Homo sapiens: one gene and its partners. The protein of the gene in region 2 purifies or fractionates together with the protein of the main gene of each other region. This does not show direct contact. Each region holds a gene or a part of one and is shown on either strand. Other genes may lie near its edges.

What was found.
Region 1: the proteins of PRXL2A (region 2) and EVPL purify together in Homo sapiens (affinity purification with mass spectrometry; one large-scale study listed by BioGRID and IntAct). This does not show direct contact.
Region 3: the proteins of PRXL2A (region 2) and SERPINB1 purify together in Homo sapiens (affinity purification with mass spectrometry; one large-scale study listed by BioGRID and IntAct). This does not show direct contact.
Region 4: the proteins of PRXL2A (region 2) and SPRR3 purify together in Homo sapiens (affinity purification with mass spectrometry; one large-scale study listed by BioGRID and IntAct). This does not show direct contact.

Annotation. Positions count from the first base shown.
Region 1 is NC_000017.11:76,005,724-76,011,479, forward strand, and holds the end of EVPL (envoplakin), read right to left. Parts: intron 4,821-5,756; coding exon 1,380-4,820; 3' UTR 1,122-1,379; downstream 1-1,121. UniProt on the Homo sapiens protein: Component of the cornified envelope of keratinocytes. May link the cornified envelope to desmosomes and intermediate filaments.
Region 2 is NC_000010.11:80,417,509-80,422,802, reverse strand, and holds part of PRXL2A (peroxiredoxin-like 2A isoform 1 precursor), read right to left. Parts: intron 2,804-5,294; exon of another isoform or gene 2,338-2,803; 5' UTR 2,336-2,337; coding exon 2,158-2,335; intron 387-2,157; coding exon 295-386; intron 1-294. UniProt on the Homo sapiens protein: Involved in redox regulation of the cell. Acts as an antioxidant. Inhibits TNFSF11-induced NFKB1 and JUN activation and osteoclast differentiation. May affect bone resorption and help to maintain bone mass.
Region 3 is NC_000006.12:2,834,607-2,839,900, forward strand, and holds part of SERPINB1 (leukocyte elastase inhibitor), read right to left. Parts: intron 4,861-5,294; exon of another isoform or gene 4,729-4,860; intron 4,081-4,728; coding exon 3,943-4,080; intron 3,394-3,942; coding exon 3,276-3,393; intron 1,645-3,275; coding exon 1,502-1,644; intron 1,418-1,501; coding exon 1,250-1,417; intron 1-1,249.
Region 4 is NC_000001.11:152,999,322-153,005,072, reverse strand, and holds SPRR3 (small proline-rich protein 3), read right to left. Parts: upstream 3,325-5,751; 5' UTR 3,280-3,324; intron 2,471-3,279; exon of another isoform or gene 2,387-2,470; intron 2,072-2,386; 5' UTR 2,053-2,071; coding exon 1,543-2,052; 3' UTR 1,217-1,542; downstream 1-1,216. UniProt on the Homo sapiens protein: Cross-linked envelope protein of keratinocytes.

The DNA of each region.
Region 1 (5,756 bases), on a different chromosome or scaffold from region 2:
TTCAGGCCCTCACCTGCCCTGCCTGCAGGGCCAGACCCTGAGGAAAGGGCGCCCCCTGCTGGTCTTTTTGGATTTAAAATGTTTGGGGGAAGAGTTGAGTTCCAGTTCAGTCCCAAGTTAAACAGGAGGGAGTGAGGGAGAGGAGAGAGGGCGTTCCCCGGATCCCAGGAGAGCTGGGCTATGACTGCAATAAGGAGTTGTTCCTTCACCTGAGATGTGCTTCTTTTGGTTCATTTCTGGCTTGACAACAATAAATAAACGTGGTATGTTCCTGAGTTTTCTGATTGTTCTGCTCACAGGGGACACCTGGGCTTCCTGACAAGGGGAACATTGACACAGGGCTGGAGACAGCTCTGGCCCAAACTGAGACAGTGGGGAAATGGGCAAGGAGTAGGTGGGGAGACAGGGGCTAGTCCATGATTTTTTTTTTTTTTTTTTTTTTTTTTTGAGACAGAGTCTCACTCTGTCACCCAGGCTAGAGTGCAGTGACATAATCTCAGCTCACTGCAACCTCTGCCTCATGGGTTCAAGCAGTTCTCCTGCCTCAGTCTCCCGAGTAGCTGGGATTACAGGCATATGCCACCAAGCCCCCATTTTTTTTTTTTTTTTTGAGATGGAGTCTCGCTGTCTCAGGTCTACCCTGTTGCCCAGGGTAGAGTGCAGTGGCATGATCTCTGCTCACTGGAACGTCCGCCTCCCAGGTTCAAGTGATTCTCCTGCCTCAGCCTCCTGAGTAGCGGGAATTTTAGGTGTGCACCACCACACCCAGCTAATTTTTGTATTTTTAGTAGAGTCGGGGTTTCACCGTGTTCGTCAGGCTGGTCTCGAACTCCTGACCTCGGATCCACCCGCCTTGGCCCCCCTAAATGCTGGTATTACAGGTGTGAGCCACTGTGCCCGGCCTCCTTTAGTGATTTTAAACCATAATCTCTTTCCATGACCTGCCACTGCATCCCTGCCCCGCACTCAAGGAGGCACAGCCCTCCGAGGATGCCTGTTTCCCAGGCAGGCAAATTGAGCACGTCCGCCCAGGCAAGGACTTGAGCAACGCTGTCCTTGCACTCATCCCCCAGACACATGGGTCCTGCACTCTCAAATGTGAATGAATGGGACACCACATGGCACGGGGAGACAGAATTCGTTTATTGGGATCACTGGGTGGAGGTGGAGGAAGAACTGAGTGGCTGCTGTCCTGGTCTGGGGATGGATCAGGCACCAAGGTTAGGGGAGGGAGCCCATCACCATGTTAGTAAAATAATAAAACAGTGGTTGGACAGAGGGAAGACCCACTGCCTGGGATGAGGCTGCTCTGAGGCAAGAGGTGTACGTATCCTACCTGGCCCAACACACGCACTTCCCCACTGGCTCCTTGGCCCGTGTCAGCGAAGGGAGCGCGGGACGGTGGGGGAGGCGGAGCGGTAGCAGCGGTACCCCTCCAGTGCCGCTGGCAGGAGCAGCAGGCCGCTCAGGGGGTCTTTGCGGCAGCGGCCCATGGCCTCCTTGTAGCTCAGCCGTTCCTTGGAGATGGGGTCTGTCAAATCCTTCTCGTAGCTGGACTCGTCCTGCAGGAGCTGGGCCAGCTCTTCACTGATCATCCCGGAGAGGAGGGCCTGCTGGATGGGGATGCGGCCTGTCCTCTTGGGGTCGATGAGCCCCCCGGTCAGGTGCTGCACCTGCAGGTGTGGGAGCACGCTCTCCCGGGGCATCCAGCCCTTCTGGACGGCCTCGCCCACCGAGAGCCTCTTCTTGGTGACGGGGTCCTCGATGCCGGTGAAGGCCTTCTGGGCGTTAAGCAGCCTCTGTGTGGAGGTGTTCTCGATCAGGCCCCTCTCCATCGCCTTGTGCACAGAGTAGCGCTCACGGCTGAGCAGGTCCACGATGCCCCCTGTGGCCGCCTGGGCCTCCAGTAGCTTCTGCCCAGTGATGGGGTCCAGCATGTTCTTGGCCACGGCCGTCTTGATGCTGCACTTGTTGTCTGTGGTTGTGTCATAGATCCCGGCGATAGGGAAGCTGTCATCACCGAGCCCGAGAGAGAAGCTGGGAGAGAAGAAACTGGTGCTCTGGGGGGCCGGGGAGGCGAGCGGGGACTTGGAGATGATAGAGCCGATGGAGAGTGAGGAGCTTGGCTTGGTCTCCCCAGCTACAAGCAGCGCAAACTCGGAGATGGGCAGGTGGCCGTCCTTGTACAGATGGTACTCCTCCTTAGAGATGCGCCGGCAGCGGAGGGCGGCCTCGATGGAGTACTGCTTCCCGCTCTTGCGGTCCAGGAGCACAGACTCCTCCCCACAGGGCCCCGAGGTGGTGACCTCCTCCCAGTCACACTCGAGCTCCTGCAGCTGCAAGTACTGGCCCCTGTCGATGATGCCCCTCTTGTAGGCCTCGTATGGGGACATGTCCTTCCCCGTCTCGGGTTCCAGGATGGAGATCTTGGTGGAAAGGTTGGTCTCTCGCGTCTGGGTCTCCTGGCTGAGCTCCTCCCGGCTCACCTTGGCGTGGAGGTCCCGGAGCGTCCGCTCCTTCTCGTAGATCTGGTCCTTCTCGCGGAGGATGGCCGCCTCCAGCCGCGAGAGCTCCTGGCCCCGCTGGGCCGCCTTCTGTCGCTCGCTCTCCGTCTTCTGGCTGAGCAGCTTCGACTCCTCCTGCAGCTGCAGTGTCTGCTGCTGCTTCTGCCTCTCCAGAGCCCGCAGCTCCTGCTGCAGCCGCCCACACTCCTGGTCGGCCTGGTCCCGGGCCCTCTGCAGCTCGGACTCCTCCCGGGACCAGGTTCTCCCCAGCGTCTCGGCCCGGTCAATGCGCTCCCGCAGGCGCCGTGCCTCCTCCTCCCGGGCCTGCCGGGCCGTGCGCTCCCTGTTGAGCATCTCCCACACGCGGGCCCGCTCATCTTCCAGGACGCGGTCCTTCTGCACCCGGATCACTTCCTTGTAGATGGTCTTCTCCTGCGATTTGGCTTTCTGGAGGACGTCAATCTGGACCTGCAGGTTCTTGCACTCCCGATTCAGCTCGGTTACCTGGGTCTTCTCCTGGTCCAGGTCCCACCGCAGGGCTTCCGTGGACTTCTCCAGGTCCGGGTCCTTCTCCAGCTTGACCACTTCCTCCATGATGATCTTCTCCTGCACCGTGGGAGGCCGCTTCTCGAGCTCCTGGATCCTCAAGGTCAGCTGCCGCAGCTCCCTCTCCACGGCCAGCTTCTTGCTGCGGTCCTCCTGGAAGCTGAGCAGGCCCTCCTGCTCCTCCACGCCGGCCCGCAGCTGCTGCACCTCAAGCTCTAGCTGGCGCCGCCGGCCCACCTCCTCATCCAGGCTCCCGCTCAGCCGGCTGTGCTCCTCGCGCAGCTTCGGGTCCTTCTGGGTGACCACCACCTCCTGCACCACCACCTTCTCCTCGGGCTTCCTCCTCTCCAGCAGCAGGCGCTTGCTCTGCAGCTCGTACACCGCGTCCTCCGCGGCCCGCCTCTTCTGGGCCGCCTCCCGCACCTCCTGGCGGAGCCGCTCTGCTTCTTTCTCCAGCACCGGGTCCTTCTCGTGGCGCACCACCTCCTTGCTCACCGTCTTGGTCTCCACCTTGGCCCGCTCGCGCCTCCACTCGTCGCGCTCACCCTGCAGGCGGATGAGCTGCTCCTGGGAGCGCCCGTGGCTGTTGACGAGCTCGTTGAGCTGAGCCTTCAGGCGGTCGATCTCACGCAGCACCTCGGGGCTCCTCTCATGCCTCACCACCTCCTGGGTCACCTCCTTGTACTCCACCGTGGGCTTCTGGGCCCGCAGGACCTCCAGGTCGGGCAGCAGCTTCTCCACCTCCTTCTCCACACCGCTCCTCTTGCCCGCCATCTCCTGCAGCTTGGCCTTGAGCCGAGTGATCTCCTGCTCTGTCTCCGGATCCACCTGGAAGATCTCGTGGACGCGCTCCTGGAGCTGCACTTTGGGCCTCTGCTTCTCCACCACGCTGTACTTGCTGTGCAGGTCGCTCAGCTCCCTGGCCAGCGTCGCGTTCTTGGTCCTCTCCTCCTCGAGGAGGCTCCTCAGCCTGGAGGACTCCTGGAGGAGCCCTGGGTCCTGCTCCACCTTCTTCACCTCCTTCACGATGACCTTGGGCTCCACCGAGCTGATAGCCCGCTCCAGGTCTTCGATGCGAGCCTGTAGCTTGGCCACAGCCTCCTCCGCCTGCTTCCTCCGCGCAGCATCCTCCTCCATCTGCAGCCTCAGAGCCTGGGCTGCCTTGACCATTTCCAGATTCTTCTCCACCTTGACTACCTCTTTCACCACGACCTTCTCCTTCACGTCCACCTCCCTCTTCTCAAGGGCCAGTAGCTCCTTCTTCAGCCCTTCCAGCCGGGCCGAGATGACGGCATCCTCCCCGCGGAGCTGCTGGATCTGGATCCTGAGCTGGGCCGCCTGGCTGTCCAGGCCGGGGTCCCTCTCCACCTGGGTGACCTCCTTGGTCAGCAGATGAGGCTGCATGGTCTTCCTCTTGCTTTCCAGCTGCACGACCTTCTGGGCTGCCACTTCCAGGTCTGCCTGCAGGCCAGCCCGCCGCTTGCCCTCCTCCTCCACCTGGGCCTTCACCCTGGACAGGCTGCCCTCCAGCTGGGGGTCCCGGTAGAACTCTACCACTTCCTTCTCCTCCAGCCTCTCCAAGGGCCGCTGGGTCCTCAGCTGCAGCAGTTGGCTCCTCTGCGCCTCCAGCTCATGCTGCACCCGGGCCACCCGCTTCCTCTCCTCTTCCAGCTGGGCCTTCAGGGCCTCTGACTCTCTCCCTGCTTGGGCAGGGCTCTCGGAGCCCTGCTTTGCATCATGGGTCCTTCGGATGTCCTCACTGAGCTCCTTCTGCAGAGAGGAAGAAGGGTAGAGCACGGGGTGGGCGGTAGAGATAGGAGCTCCATGTTTTTCCTGAGATGAAAGACCCCTCCCTGTTTCCTGAGACTCCCCAGTGGGTCCTCAGAGGTGGAGCTGAAGACCTAAGATGCTTGGATATAGGATTTTGAGAAGACCCAGTCAATGCAATGATTTTAGGACCCAAGGCAGTGCGCAGGCCTGGTTTGCATTAGAAAGTGCAAGTAAGGGCCAGGTGCAATGGCTGATGCCTTTAATCCCAACACTTTGGGAGGCCAAGGTGGGCGGATCACCTGAGGTCAGGAGTTCGAGACCAGCCTGATCAACATAGTGAAACCCCATCTCTACTAAAAATCCAAAAAATTAGCTGGGCGTGGTGACGCATGCCTGTAATCCCAGTTACTCAGGAGGCCGAGGCAGGAGAATCGCTTGAACCAGGGAGGCGGAGGTTGCAGTGAGCTGAGATTGTGCCACTGCACTCCAGCCTTGGTGATAGAGCGAGACTCCGTCTCAAAAAAAACAAAAAACAAAAAAAAAGTGCAAACAGGACAGGTTCTCCCTGTCCCTCCAGAACCTCTCCCTTTTCCCCTTCCATCCAGGGACCCTGACTGTGGCCGAGGGTAACAGAAAAGCTGGCAAGTCACCAGGAGTCCTGGAGAAGTTCTGGCTTGAGGGTGTGTAGGCCGAAGGTGGAGAGCCAGGTGGCTGAGGGTGAAGCTCTAGGGGATTTTCTCTGCTCTCTGGGGTTAGAGGTCTTGTCCCATTGGAGGATGCCCAGTGGCCATGAATGCCATCTCCAGGGCCTAACCCTGGGATGGACACCAGCCTGTAAGAGCTGCTGGAGAGAAAACTGGGTGGCTGGAATCCGCTCCCCTCTCCAGCAGCCAGAGCTGCCCAGGGGCTGCAGGCAGGAGGGAGAGGAGGGAAGGA
Region 2 (5,294 bases):
TGCCCCTGATTAAATTGGAATATGGTCCAGGACTCAGAAGGTACAGCACAGGGTGAAAGGCCTGGGAGTACTAAGGGAAACTGAGATGTGTTGCTAACCCCAGTAGGAGAGGGTGAGTTGTTTAAAAAAAAAAAAAAAAGAGCACAAATCAAAGAAATACCTAGAGCAAATAACAGAACAGAACATGTGGGTAAAAGGCTAAAGCTGGCTTACCGACCCTTGGTTCTGGCCGGAAAACAATGGCCCCTACTTGCCAGGATCCCTTTCTCTGAATAGATCCTCATCTGCACTCACCTCTCGACAGAGGAAACAGCCTGGCCTCCGCACGGCCATAATCACAGCTCCATTTTTTTCCCATAGCTCCTTTGCTTTGAAAGTCCTTGGTTCTAAGAGAGGAAAAAAAGAAATTCGATATCTCCTCCCAGCCCAGCCCCAATCACTAAGCAGCTCATGAACCACACTAAGTCCAGCCAAGGTCAGAGACCCGGCCTAGTAGAGGACCTGGACAGGCATTTCACACGTGGGAAAAGACACACAGGAAACACAGACAGACAGAATACACACCTTCCTGAAGAAAGTTAACCAAGCTTAAGAATCCTGTTATATACCCGGTAGGTCCCTCCCACCATGAAAATCTTTTTTCTAACCTGAACATTCAGAAGTGGGACATTTCTGGAAAAATGGCCATTTTGTCTATTGCTGATGTCATCAGATATTGTATAATAATCCTTCAGAACAGAAACATGGCCCAAACTGAAAAAGTCTCAAATTTTTAACCTAAATATGTTACCTGCAATATTATTAACGAAGGAGAGGATAGAAGATGCCTAGGAATAAAATGCTTTGGGGTAGTACAGTACTGTAGTTCAACAAGCCCAGCTCTAAGGTCCAACTGAATCTGAATCTAGCTGTGTAACTCTGGGCAAGTTATTTTTGCTCTTTGAACCTCAGCTTCCTCATTTGTAAAATGCAAATATCTAGTAGCTCCACTTTGGGCCACAGGGCATATTGAAAGATGAATATAAAAGTGCTCACCACAATGTCTGGTAATATAGAGTTGGTGAGGGCTCAATAAATATGAGCCCTTAATTATTTTAGTATTTCCCAGAGGGATCCATGTTCCCGTAGATGTTATGTGGAAAAAAAAAAAATGGGGTCAGGTGGGTGAGAGGGTGGGGAGAAGAGTCTGTAATCAAATAAGATTGGGAAACCCTGGGTTGAACAAAGCTTAACAGGTCTCTCTCTCTCCTAGTATCTTACTAAGGTGACCTACTATAAACCTGCACAATCTCCTGCCTTCCTTTCGCAAGCTTCCTTACTTACTAAACAGATGACGATGACTTCCACCTGGGGGGCTAACATGGTGACCACGCCATCAATGAGACCTTCACCACTCCAACTCTCTTGCCACACCACTGGCATGACTGAAATCCCACCAAGCTACAGCTCTAACACTGAGAGCACACAGCAAGGAGGCAGAGCTAACACATTTGGGTGTGTGGCTCTAAGCTGTCCACAATGGATTCTAGCAGTCCCCCAGAAGAGGGAGATAGGCAGGTCTGCTCTAACGGGTGACCTTGAAGTGATTCCTCAGACACCACAGCTTCTTCACAGGGAGGGGCTGGCCATGCCTGAATCAGCAGCAATCCAGACACCTCATTCTAATAAGCATATGTCTGTGCTGAGCATCAGGAGCATGGAATTGGATAAAAGGTGTCTCCCATACTTGTTCACTCAGGAACTCCTTTTAGTTTGACGATCCCACAAGCCTGGAATTCCTCAGAATACACTCTGGAAGCACTGGTTTAGTAAAAGATTGTAATTATTACTAAATATTATGGAGCAATTTATCATTATAATTACAGAGACAACAACAGAGAATGAGAAATGCTTTTGATAAGAAAAGCTAAAATGTAAAACAGCACCTAAGCCAAGCACAACTACGTAATATGTACACATGGAAAGGAATATGCCAAAATCAAAATTACTGTGTTAGGGTAACAGAATTATTCCTAGTTTAAAAATTGTTATTAAATTTTTCCTAATGTTGTTATATTATCTTTTCAATTAAAAAAAGGAGAGAGTTTAGAAAGAAAGCAGTAAGCCTGTATCCCAGCTCCTTGGAAAAGTACTGAGACCTGAAGGGTCACCACTTACCCTTCTCCAGTGTTTTCAGGTCTATATCCTCCAGGTACTCCAGGGCCGCTTTCTGGGGCTTGGACAGAAACACGTCTGTGTTGGCAAGCAGCAATGCCAAGGCAGCAGCCCCCAGGGCTCCTGCACCAATGGACCACATCCCCATGGTGAAGAAACTTGGGTCCTGGAGGAAAGACATTTCTGGAGATTGAGAAGAAGGAAGAAGGCGTTACTGCTCCCACAGGGTAGCTGGAATTTCATCTTCCAGGCAAGGCTCTGGCAGGACAGCCAACCAGGAGGTCAGGACAGGGGAAGGGAGCAGCAGTGTCACAGGCGAGACTGGACAAGGGCTGCTAAGCACCTGCTGCCACCAGAACTTGGGGATGCAGCACACACATGGAGGTTCCTGCACCGTGGAGCTCACCAGGGCATCAGGAGTGATGACAGAGAAAGGACAGCCTTCTCAAATGGTTCTCTTGCTGCTCTCTCTTCTCATGCCCCAAGTTGCAGCCCCTAGCTCTGTGGAGCTGTGCCGAGCTATGTCCCCTGTAGGCAGACTACTTCCTCATTCCCCTCCTCATCAATGCCTGATTCTCCCTCACAATCCAGGTGGCTCAGGATCATGTCCCTGGGTAGGGGCAGCTTTCTCTTCTGTGATCAGAGGATACTTAGAACACCAACCGCACTGTTTTGTTCCCCTATCTTCTTTCCTCTTTAGTTTGACGACCCTCCAAAAACAGGGACCATATCCTACTCATCAAGCCCCCAGCCAGTGCCCAGCAGGGCCTCATTCATTATAGGCAGGCAGTAATTTCTCCCAATTGAGAAGAGCTTTATTTCTCCCTTATATAAAAACAAAATATGCTTATAGTAAAAAACAAAACAGAGAATACATGAAACCATAGTCGATAAGAAAGCAAATACTCTCTGAAGCTACCACCTACTGATGGCCACTGTTAAACACTGGTGTTTAGTAATCTGACTTTTTTCTCCTGTGAACAGAACTACACAGATGTCTGCCAAACAAATGCAGGTGTTATATCAGAAAGAGGAGGTCCTGGCAGGGCGCGGTGGCTCATGCCTGTAATCCCAGCACTTTGGGAGGCCGAGGTGGGCGGATCACCTGAGGTCGGGAGTTCGAGACCAGCCTGACTAACATGAAGAAACCTCATCTCTACTAAAAATACAAAATTAGCCGGGCGTGGTGGTGCGTGCCTGTAATCCCAGCTTCTCGGGGGTGCTGAGGCAGGAGAATCGCTTGAACCTGGGAGGCGGAGGTTGCGGTGAGCCGAGATCGTGCCATTGCACTTCAGCCTGGGCAACAAGAGTGAAACTCCGTCTCAAAAAAAAAAAAGAAAAAAAAAAAAAGAAAGAGGAAGTCCTGGCAGGGCACGGTGGGTCATGCCTGTAATCCCAGCACTTTGGGAGGCCGAGGCAGGTGAATCACGAGGTCAAGAGATGGAGACCATCCTGGCCAACACAGTGAAACCCTGTCTCTACTAAAAATACAAAAATTAGCTGGGCATGGTGGCGCATGCCTATAATCCCAGCTATTTGGGAGGCTGAGGGAGGAGAATCGCCTGAACCCGGGAGGCGGAGGTTGCAGTGAGCTGAGATTGTGCCACTGCATTCCAGTCTGGTCATAGAGCAAGACTCAGTCTCAAAAAAAAAGAAAGAAAAGAAAAGAAAGAGGAGGTCCTATGGCATCTGCAGAGGAGGCTGGGCAAAAGACAGCTGCATAAGATAAAGGTCTCTGCAACTGAAATGGAGCTCCAGGCGGGTTCTGTCAGAATTCAGCCTTGTTCCTGGCTTCTTCTGCCAGCTAGGAAGACTTGTGCCTGTGGGTGGGAGCTCCTGGAAGCAGCCCACAAAGTACCCCCACCTCCAGCCTTCCTTCTCCCAACAACCACTTACAATATCTATCTTTCCATTTGGTCCTCACGCCATCCTAAGCTCTGGCATACACTGGTGCCTTCTTCCCTAAGTACCAGCCTGCTTCTGTGTGCTTAGATCACCGGGAATAGGCCTGGGAGTGGGTGTGGTAATTGTGTGGCCCACCTCACCCCAGCCCATCGAACCTCTGACTCAAGTCTCCCTTGCAGGACTTGGCCGGGAGAGGATGTCTCTAAAGGATCAGGAAAGGCCCTGGAAATCCAAATGTCACTGCCAAGGGTGGGGGCTGTGAGGGGTGCACTGCATGAGGTGGGGGTGGGAGTGAGTTGGTGGTGACTTTGGGAAGGAAAGGGTAGGCCAGACTAGCATTGAAGCCACATGGAAATTCAGATTTAAGAAACAAAAGAGGCAGCCATAAAAAAAGAACGAAATCATGTCCTTTGCAGCAACATGGAGCTGGAGACCATCATCCTAAGTGAACTAACCCAGAAACAGAAAATCAAATACCACGTGTTCTCATTTGCAAGTGGGAGCTAATCAATAGTATACATGGACATGAAGACAGAAATAACAGACACTGGGGACAGCTGAAGAGGGGAGGGTGGGGTGAAAATTACCTATCAGGTATAAGGGTCACTATTGGATAACGGGTACACTAAAAGCCCAGTCTCCATCACTACACAATATACCCATGTAACAAATATGCATATGTACCCCATGAATCTAAAATAATTAAAAAAAAAAAAAAGGAATAAGAGAGAACCTTGGTTGAGTGCGGTGGCTCCTGCCTGTAATCCTAGCATTTTGGGAGGCTGAGGCAAGAGGGTTGCTTGAGCCCAGGAGTTTGAAACAAGCCTGGACAACATGGGAGGACCCTGTCTATAAAAAATTAGCTGGGCATGGTGGCACACGCCTGTGGTCTCAGCTATTTGGGAGGCTGAGGTGGTAGGATCACTATAGCCCAGAACTCCAGCCTAGGTGACAGAGCAAGACCTTGTCTTTAAAAAAAAAAAAACAAAAAAAAAAAGATGAAGAAGAAGAAAAGAAGTTCCAGGTAACGGGGGTAACCAAACAAAAAACAACATCTAAGAAAGAGGAATTTGGCATCTATATACTTGGGAAGCGGAAAAAGAAGGGGAAAATCAGTGCCTGTGTGTGTTGGGGAAGGGGGTGCTGCTATGGTTGTCTTGAAATGCCTAACCTTGTTTTTACTCTAACTCGCTACTTTGAATTTTATCCTGCTTGTCTCTTTAATCACCTAGCCT
Region 3 (5,294 bases), on a different chromosome or scaffold from region 2:
CACAATGGATTACAGTGATAGGTCATGACAGCTGCTATTACTTCCAGGTTGAGTAGTGCTAGAAGAAATTTAAAATATTTCTTCTATTTAGTCTGAATCCCACTGAAGCTGAAGTAATATCTAATAACTTTAGCTCCTAGGTAAAAATTTTAAAGGCAGATTATGCACTGGAGCTAGTTCCTCATCTGAAATGTGATGTGGACATTACTTATATCTACCTTATAGATTGTTGAGAGCATTAAATGAAATGATGTATATAAAGTGCTTGGCCCATAGTGCTACATAAATGTCAGCTATTATCATTACTATTGTTATAGCTATTGGACTGGAATAGAACCATCACTCTACTTCTTCTAATGGTGCTGATAATTCCTTTTAAGAGGCTAGAGATTTTCACTTTACAATCAGAAAAAAAACTAATGCAAAAATACAACCAAAAGAAAGGCCACATTGATTGTTATACAATGTATTAAAAGTCTGTACATGCAAATGATTAACATTAGACCCCCTTCCTGATAGCAAGGATGATGAATAGGTGGATAGGGAGGAGACGGAGAGCACAGAGCAGGCTAGAGTCCCTACATATAATGGAAACCTCATGCAAAGATCATACTAGTAAATAGGCCTAACATGTCACATGAGGCTTTTTCTGTCTTGTACCCATTGAAAATTTAATTCACTATCTATATGAATTGTGATGAGAACAAACAGTGTAATAATAGAATTTTATAGTACGTGATGAAGATATATGCTACACTATTTGGGGCTTTTCAATCTTTTTCCTCAGTAAAACAATCCTCATCTTACTGTAATTTCCTCTAAAGCTAATTCAAGAGCCTTTCCATGAGCTGCCACTAACCAGTATTATATTTAGTATAGATCTTTAATGACCCCATCACAAGTGTCCACTGAAAGTAGCTGGCCATCTTTCTTGAAAAATGAAACGTTAGCCGGGCACAGTGGCTCACAGCTATAGTCCCAGCTACTCAGAAGGCTGAGGCAGGAGGATTGCTGGAAGCCAGGAGGTCAAGACCAGCCTAAACAACATAGTGAGACCTTGTCTCTATAAGTAAATTTAAAAAAAAATTAACTCTGGGCTTTAGTGTAGTAAGTGTTGATGGGCTACATTTACAAAGGAATGACAAACTACTGGAAAATGCACCATCAGTGAACACTTAACAAGCACCTACCTACCATGCGACACACACATGCAAGAGGAACCACAAAGCATGAAGCCCAGGAGCCATACCTTCTTCAGGCCCGTGGACTCGTCCTCAATGTCATCCGGCAGCAGGATGACCATGCTGAGCTCCTCGCCTTGGTAAGGCAGTTCCAGCACACGGCACTTAAGGTCCTCGATGTAGCCATATGCAAATTTTTTCTTCTGATACATCATTTTCACAGTTTTTCTGTCTTTCTGAACAGTTTTAAAAAATCACTGAAATTATTCTCTGCATTCTTTTAGAGCAATGCATGACTCTGTACAGTTACCTCACCTCACCTTATTCAATCTGAATGGTGCATTCGTCGTGGCTTCTTTCATGAATTTATCCTTCCAGTTTCCCTTGAAATAGATGGCATTTACTAGCACAAGTTTGGTCATGTTATCAACCATGCCCGAAGCCAACAGTTCCGGAATTTTTCCTAAAAAAAAATCAAGTTAGCGTAAAAAAAATCCAAATCGGAATTCCAAATTTGAACTGACAATATATTAGCACGGAAATGCAATTCAAATATATAATTTCTACTTAATTTTCATTTAACAAGATATTAACTTAGGAAAGCCCTACTCACTAACATGTCTCTACTTTAAGTATAACAACCTGTGGGGCAGACAGACCAGGATGACACACAAACTTCCCACAAGGACCTGACATTTTAAACAAGTCAAATGTGCCGAAAGACAAAAGACAGGAAAATTCTCCTTTTCTGGACTGTATGATAAACAATGAGCCTTATTTTGTAACAACCATTCTTTTTTAGAAAAAAAAAATTCTTAATGAAGATATCTTTAGTCATCAGTAAATCACTTCTTCAAATCGCTGAGTAGATGCCTACTCTCACAAAAAAAGGTTTAAACAATATCCAAAAGGCAGAACAAGACCAAGCATGGTGGCGCACACCTGCAGTCCCAGTGCTTTGGGAGGTGGAGATGAGAAGATTCCTTGAGCCCAGGAGGTCAAGGCTGCAGTGAGCCACGATCGCACCACTGCACTCAAGCCTGGGCGACAGAGCAAGACTCTGTCTCTTAAAAACAAAAAACAAACAAACAAACAAAAAAACCAGCAGAACATACTCCATGGAAATAAAGGTCACCTTCGTGACCATAAGTATGGCTGGGAACAATTCCCATAATGGAAGACAGGTCTTCTGGAGTGGGTTGACTAATACAGGGCTATGTAAGAAGAGAGATGTAGCAAAGAAATAAATTGCACCCTAAAAGCAAGTCAGTCCCCACCTACCACAACTTTTTTACTGGACAAGATGTTGGCAAAAAATTTACAACCACAGTAGTTTGTGAATATTGATTTCAGGTATTTCCATGAAATTCCAGGACATTTCTTTCCATATGAGTATTAGGTAATTTTTGGCAGGCTGAATTCTCCTCAAAATTTTAATTCCTTTTTTGCTGTATTCAGTGTTGGTTTTAACTTTATTTTTTATTTTTTATTATTTTTATTATTTTTTTTACGACGGAGTCTCGCTCTGTTGCCTAGGCTGGAGTACAGTGGCATGATCTCGGCTCACTGTAACCTTTACCTCCTGTGTTCGAGAGATTCTCCTGCCTCAGCCTCCAGAGTAGCTGGGATTACAGGTGTGTGCTACCACACCTGGCTAAATTTTTTGTATTTTTAGTAGAGACAGGGTTTCATCATGTTGGCCAAGCTGGTCTTGAACTCCTGACCTCAAATGATCCGCCCGCCTTGGGCTCCCAAAGTGCTGGGATTACAGGCATGAGCCACCGCGCCTGCCAATGTTGGTTTTAACTTTGAAATGCAACTTTAAAAGTTTTGGGGAGCTGATGAGAAAAAAGGATTTAGCTGCTTGAGTTAAATCATGTTTAAGTTTCCACTCTGGTGAACTTCGAACATGTGAGAGCTGTCCAGCAACGTGCAGTGCAGACTTCACGCACCGGCAGCGTCCTCTGACTGTAACCACGATGTGCGCCAGGACTGTGGGAGCTGGGGAGGGAATAACTGCAGGTAGGGAAGGCGGACTGAGGAAACGAATGACATGACCAGCGCATAATGATTCCATTCTGCCCAGGCTCTCACCTTCTGTCTGTCCTTTGACCCACTGGTTTATGGTCTTCCTTGCATCTTCAGAGGCATGCTGAAAATCCACACTGGCCAGGTCAGCACCATATGTTTTCTGAGTCGAAACCAAGAACTCCTATTAAAAAAAAGGAAAAGGAAATATATATATAACTCCTACTACATATAGAAATTGTTTTCTAAAATCCCAAAAAGCAACAGAAATTGTCCTAAAAGGCTACAATTCCATGTAACACAAAATTTCTAACTCTTATAGTTTTTCTTATAGTAGTAAAAATCATTTAACATTAAATTTACGATCTTAGCCACTTTTAACTGTGCATTCCAGTAGTGGTAAGCCTAACCCTTATACTGTTGTTGTTATATAGAAATTACCACTCTTTTCTGAACTTTGACTAAGATTTCACAAACACTGATTGTACTCTTGCTTCAGTAAAACCTCCAAGAGCTATCTTTTCACTAAAAAGACTGTAACACAAAATCACCATGTCAATTAAAGTTTGCATTCTGTCGTGTTTGCCTTCCATATTGTTTTTGCCATGTTTGCCTTCTGTATTGTTTTTCTGAAAGTTTACAAATATTAAAACTGACCTCCATGACTTGATTGTGCTGGAAAATATCTGCACTGTCTAGTGGGGTTTTAGAATGTGAAGGGCAAAGTACTTACAGGAAGGAAATTGTAAGTTTTCTCTCCATATAATCTATTAGCAAGTTTCAGAATATAAGACGCTCCACGTTTGTTGATATCAGCATTCAGACTCTGGAATCTTGAATGAACCTCTTCAACCGTGTTGAAATGGAAAGTCTAAAATAAAGAAAATCTTCTTTCTACAACCATTTATTTTGAAACTATAAAGTGATTCCTTGGTGTTTCCTTCTATCACATTAAATTAATGTGTTTTTATTACTAATTATTGATGATCCCAAACCCAATACTTTATTAATTTGTCATTGCAGAACAAACAATAGGAAATCCAAAATTTATGGCTTCGTGAGACAGAATGTTTACAACTTTACACATTGCTTTTACATCACTCTTTGTTACACTTGCAGTTCCACAAATGTGGGTGGTTAAGATACTAAATATTTATATATAAGTCTGCCTTTTCCAAAGAAAATAATAAATGGTATGTTCATATTTATATTCTGTATCAAATATAATTTTACTGAAAGTTCTCAGAAATAAGCAGTAAAAATAGGATTCATCCTCTATTCAGAACCACAAAGATAGTACAGACTGAAGCTTTTAAAATTTTATTACCCTATTAACATCAGTAACTCACTTATTTTAAAATAACTTCCTTAAACTTAACATTCTGGCAAAAGTTTAATTCCCCATGTATCAGTTACAAATCAAGAGGCCCTTTGTGGTTTTATGAGACCTAGGCTGGTTCCTTTATGATTAAGACACAAAGAACAAAATTGCATAGGGTACGAAGTCCACATTACTCACCGAGATATGGAATGTTTGCACTGTGCCTATGCTCCATCTGCTTTAATGGAAATGGGGGAGGAGTCCTTAAAACTATTCTTTGCTGAGGTTTTAAAGTCCCTGGAAAACCTCAAGCTAGGAACTGATATAACCCTGCAAGAAGCAACTAACAATTAGTAACAGAGGTTTTTTTTTTTTAATGGATTTAAAAAAAACATTTAAAATGCTTTCATATCTAAAGTGATGAGTAATAGAAGTTTCGCAGCCCCTTGAACTTGAATCCCAGGCTGCACCTTGCCAAGGAACAGGTGCAGTGTAATTTGCGGCAGGTATGTTAGAAGAGCCTCCACTTTTACCACTCCTTTCTGCTGAGCTTAGAGAGAGAGAGCTAGAGTTCTCTTCTCAGAATTAAAGAGTACCAAGCACAGAAGTCCTCTCCATGTCCATTATGGACAAGAAGGAAGGCTGGGCATGAGAGTGACCTGTCACATCGCCAAGGGCTGGGTCCCGCCCCTGAAGCTGCGGGTCTCCCCCTCACCTCCCCTGCAGGGCGTGCTATGCCACAGCCCACTGAGCCATGCGCAGCA
Region 4 (5,751 bases), on a different chromosome or scaffold from region 2:
GCGGCATTATTCACAATAGCAAAGACTTGGAACCAGCCCAAATGTCCAACAATGATAGACTGGATTAAGAAAATGTGGCACATATACACCATGGAATCCTATGCAGCCATAAAAAATGATGAGTTCATGTCCTTTGTAGGGACATGGATGAAATTGGAAATCATCATTCTCAGTAAACTATCGCAAGAACAAAAAACCAAACACCGCATATTCTCACTCATAGGTGGGAATTGAACAATGAGAACACATGGACACAGGAAGGGGAACATCACACTCTGGGGACTGTTGTGGGGTGGGGGGAGGGGGGAGGGACAGCATTGGGAGATATACCTAATGCTAGATGATGAGTTAGTGGGTGCAGCGCACCAGCATGGCACATGTATACATATGTAACTAACCTGCACATTGTGCACATGTACCCTAAAACTTAAAGTATAATAATAATAATAATAATAATAAAATAAAAATCACTTAATAGATTTCTGAGGGTTATTTTGGAACACCACTGGGAGTGTGTGTGTGTGTGTTTGTGTGTATGGTTGTGTACTCATTTGTATTAGAAGGGCATGAATATCCTAACTCGTAAACAAGACTGCAAATTCTACAAGGGAGGTGCTGCGTATCCTCCTCTCTCTCTCTTGCTGGTCCATCTTTAGGGATCTCTGCACATAAGAGTTACTTAGAAAAAATAACATTGAGCTAGAGAGGGTAGAGCTTGTGTGAATGATTATGTGACTGTGTGGCTATTTAAAATGAATGTTTCTCTTTGTGAATGACTCTGTGTGTGTGTGTGCGTGTGTGTGTGTGTGTATGTGTGTGGTGGGGTATCTAGAAGGTAAAACAAATGAAGAAAAATAGACTGTCCAGTCAAAATATGTAGGAGTAAAGTTTTCTTGGAACAAACAGGAGATTTGTTGTCAGGATACTGAGGATCAGAGGTGTCTTGGAACAGGTGGCTTGGAGTCAGGCATGACTCAGTCCAGTGCAAGAGGAGAGCCTGTGGCTGCCCAAAGTGACAACTTCTATTCAACATCACACCAGGCCCATTGCCATTCCAGGAACACCTCAACTGTAACCCCATACACCCATAGAAACAAACAGTACTGGGGTTAAATAGATGACTTCTACATCAACTCCTCTCTGTCTATAGGTCCTGACTCACAATGGGGAAACAAGGAAGGAGGAAGATTCTGCCAATGACACACACAGCCAAGACTGGAATTAAAAGCAATTTAATGAGGGAAGAGCAGGAAACATGCATTTCTTTTCATTCGAATCTTCAGATGAACCCTGAGCAGCCGAAGACCAGAAAAGCCATGAAGACTTTCTGCTTAATTCAGGGGCTTACAGGATTCTTCAGAGTGTGTGTGAACAAAAGCTTTATAGTACGTATTTTTAGGATACAAATAAGAGAGAGACTATGGCTTGGGGTGACAATGTGCTGATTACAAGGTCTACAGACAATTAAGACACAGAAACAGATGGGAAGAGGGTGTCCAGCATCTGGTGGTTGGCTTCTCAAGGGCTTGTCTGTGCACCAAATTACTTCTGCTTGGTCTTCTGCTGAGCTGGGCCTGGAGTGACCGTTGAAGGACATGGCTCTGGTAGCTTTGTGTAGCCTGGCACAGGAACTTTGGTGTATCCTTGCTCAGGAACTTTGATGGCACCTGGCTCAGGAAACTTGATGAAGCCTTGGTCAGGGACCTTGATGCTGCCTGGTTCAGGGACCTTGGTGTAGCCTGGCTCAGGGACCTTGGTACAACCTGGCTCAGGGACCTTGGTACAGCCTGGCTCAGGGACCTTGGTACAACCTGGCTCAGGGACCTTGGTACAGCCTGGCTCAGGGACCTTGGTACAGCCTGGCTCAGGGACCTTGGTACAGCCTGGCTCTGGAATCTTTGTGTTTCCAGGTTGTGGAACCTTTGAGTGGCATGGCTCCTTGGTTGTGGGAACAAATATTTCCTGAGGTGGAGGCTGGCTGGGTTGTTTCACCTGCTGCTGTTGAAGCTGAGGTGGTGGGGTAAAGGTCTGCTTCTGCTGGTAAGAACTCATGCTTCAAAGGATGCTGGACCTAGAGACAAAACAGCTAATTCAGTGCTTTGATTAAGTAGGAATGAAGCCCAGTTTAATGACAAATATCTGTCATTTCATTCTCCTTCAGAACTGAGAGCCTCTCTTTTCTTTCTTTTTCCCTGAATTTGAGATCATGGGATGCTTTGGTGATCCCCACTTATCTTCCAGAGAATAAGGTAAAGTTGATTTCTTCCACATCGTGTAAATGGAGCCTTTCTTTATGCTTCTTTTCTTCCTGGTACATCTAAAAACCTACGTACAACATGAAAACACATACAAATATGCAAATATATACTCTGAAGCTTTCGCTTACACACTCTTTGAAGAATCCTCTAAGCTCCTGAATTAAGCAGAAAGTCTTAGTGGCTTTTCTGGTCTTCAGCTGCTCAGGGATCATCTGAGGAATTGAGTGAAAAGAAATGCATGTTTCTTGCTCTTCCCTGATTAAATCACTTTTAATACCACTCTTGGCTGTGTGTCATTGGCTGAAGATTGATGTGACACCTCAGTTTTTCCATAAGTTGGAAAGATTTTAAGGTCAGCAGTCTAGAATCTACTCACTCATGTCCTCCTTATAGAGTGCGATAGTTCTCCCAGGAGAACTCTTATCTAAACTTCCCCCTAAGGCTCCCACAATCCACCTGGGAGCCTCTGTTCACACTGTGCCTGCTGCACATGCTCTCTGGCAGGCTCTCCACATCATCGCTGCCTCCCCACACATGCCCACCTCTCATGGCTGTCCTTCCTGATGCTCTCACCTTCCTCGTTTTGCCACAGCATGATACTTGCTTTCCCTCTCTGCTAATCACTCCCCATGCTGTATGTTTGCAAATTTTAGTCAAGTATATGTTTTCTAATGGATTATACATTCATGCAATAAAGAAAAACTTATCTTTTGATCATCAAAATTGCCAATGTAGTGCCTTCTATATTAAAAATTTTCAATACATGTTGACAGGAGAGTGCTCTTGAAGTGGGTATATTGTCTTGCTAACTTAGCAAGCCTTTACAGAAATCACTCCCCTTTTCTGATCCTAAGTTCCACACCTGTAATCTGAGTGGAAAGTCAAAATATGTATAAGGTCACCTTAAACAAAAGTCGTTATTGCATTTAAAATAAATATATTCATTGCATAGCAAAGAGATCTCAATCAAAATAAAGAAACTATTGGAGAATATTAAGGTGTTCCTAATGCGGAGACTCACCTGCTGTGCAGAGAAGGTCGAGGTGTTCAGCCTCTGGGATCTGGTGAAGAGTCTCTTGTTAGCTGGTATTTATATAGAAAATGAGCCCTGCCTTAAGAAAATTGGATTTTTTAAAAGACTGCTCTAACTTCATTCCAGCTTTTGTGATAAGTATCTCTGGCTTAACATTTTTTGTCACTTAAGCTCTGACAGTGATGTCACCTGGGCCTGACTCACTGTCCACCCTTTGTGGTGTGGTTGCTGTGGGCAAAGGTCTTCTTGAATGGCAATGGATTAAATTAGGAGGAAGTACCATGCTCCTAGGACTAGAACGAGCCAGGCCTCTTGGCCTGGGCCCTAATCTTTAGCCAGATTAGTCCTATTGGGCTTCCTCATGGTTGAAGTGGACATGGAAATAACAATAGGCATTTCTGGTTCTGCGAGGCCATGGGGATGGTGCAGAATAAGTGAATCATCTGATTTTCAGTCTCTTACTGGATTTGGACCTGGGAGGAGCAATGGAAGGCAAAATGCCTGCTTTGGAAATAAGTTGCTTTCACTGTGAAGGGCGCCTTAAGGTGCCGTGTTGATCAGGGATAGTAGATGTCATTGAGATGGACAGGCAGGATTGACTGGATCTGTGTGACATTGTGGCTCAGCCCTGAAGACCCTGCCTCTTGTGGTATCTTTCTTCTCCAGGAGTGACATAGGAAGAGGAGCGTGCTGATTCCCTAGGTTCATACACCAGCCATTTCCTCTGATCACTACAGGATGAACCTCAAGTCACTAACTCAGAGTTGCCCTCAATACACACTCTCTTACTAGACGCGGCCCTTGGAAAATCCAGACATCCTTACATCTCAGGCATGTGAATAGCTCCTCCTTTCCCAATGTTCCACGACTGTGTTACTCCCTTGAACCTGATGCCCAGCTCCTTCCACCAGGTTCTGAAAGCCCCTTGTTCTACTTCAGCGTCACACAGTGCCTGGTTATCATGGGTGTTAAGTCAATGGACAGTCATTGTTCTCCTGAATAGAGCTGTAGGTTCATGGAAGGGAGAAAGGAAGTGAGAAAGAAACAGAGATAGATAAAGAAGAAAGGAAAGAAAGAAAGAAAGAGAGAGAGAGAGAAGGAAAGAAAGAAAGAAAGGAAGGAAGAAAGGAAGGGGAGGGGAAGGAAAGGAAAAGAAAAGAAAAGAGAAAAGAAAAGAGGAAAGATAGGGAGGGAGGGAGGAAGGCAGGAAGCCACAAGGCAGTTTCTTGGGCATGATTCACTGTCCTGTGCCAGGCCTCCTGGTGTGAGCTGAGAAGAGGTGTGAGCTGATAATTCATGAAGGAGAAGAGGCTTACCCTCCCTTCCACACCCATGTCCTTCCCTCTCTGCTAGCATTTGTTTGACCGGCCACTTCCCTCTGGGATGGGCCAGGGCCACTGCCATGCCTAAACTCTGGGCTCTGTCATCACATTAGCTCTTTTTCAGTGTTGGGTCCAGGTTTCTCTCCTCAGCAAATCCACCTCTCAGGAGCCACAGACCCTGGGGGCTTCGGCTAGACCCTGCTGCTCCACCTGGGATTTTCCTCCCCAGAGGAAGGAAGCTCCTCTATGAATCCTGGTCTCCCTCATTTTCTTCCTCGATTCTGCACCTTGGTTCTAGAGGAAATTCCTTTCTGATTTCCTGTGTCCCTTCCCTGGGCGGGCTCTCTCCTGCCCTTCTCTAACTCTTGCCTCATTCACCCCAACAAAAGCTTCTCTGCCATCAGCTTATTGAAATTCTCGTTTTACCCCAACCCTGTTATTCCTGTTTAGTCAAACACACTCAGCGCCTGAACGTTAAGCCTCTTTCAGAGAAGCTTTGTTTTCTCATGAGCAGTGTTGGGTGTGCTGGTAAGTCTGGCCTCAGTTTTAGAGAGGATACATTGAGTGGCTTCTGAAGGCGAGTCCCACTTCCCCAGGTACCTTAGTCTTTCCCACTGGCTCCCTTCTCTGGTGGCAGGAGGCTGTGAGTCATCCAACTGCACTGTCCTGGGACTTTCTTGGGACTTGTGTGTGGATGGTACTGGGTGCCTCTTAGGCACTCTCCAAATCTTCTGGATCTTGCTCTTGTTTTCTACCATGGCTATGTGGACCACTCACACACATTGCCTAGAGTTCTGCCTCTTCTTTCCTCACCTGAGGGCCTCTGATGCCCCAGCGTGAGCTGTCTGTAGGAATCTGTAATGCACTTGTGGATATGCAAGCTTGAAGTTCAGTGTTAGCATCTAGTGGCCACACTCCACCAATGGAGGACATGAACTGGTAGATAATGCTTTCCTCTTTCATTTCTAGGGGAAACCCTTCTGTGACATAGTTCTCTGTCAGCTGAGATCCTGGGGATCAAGTTCCAGTCACCCTTCCTGGTTGCCTACTTAGTAACATATTCTTTGTATATATTGATTTTTCCTTTTGCCTAGCTTCACCCCTGTTTATTTCACATTCCTCTTTTCTATGATTACAT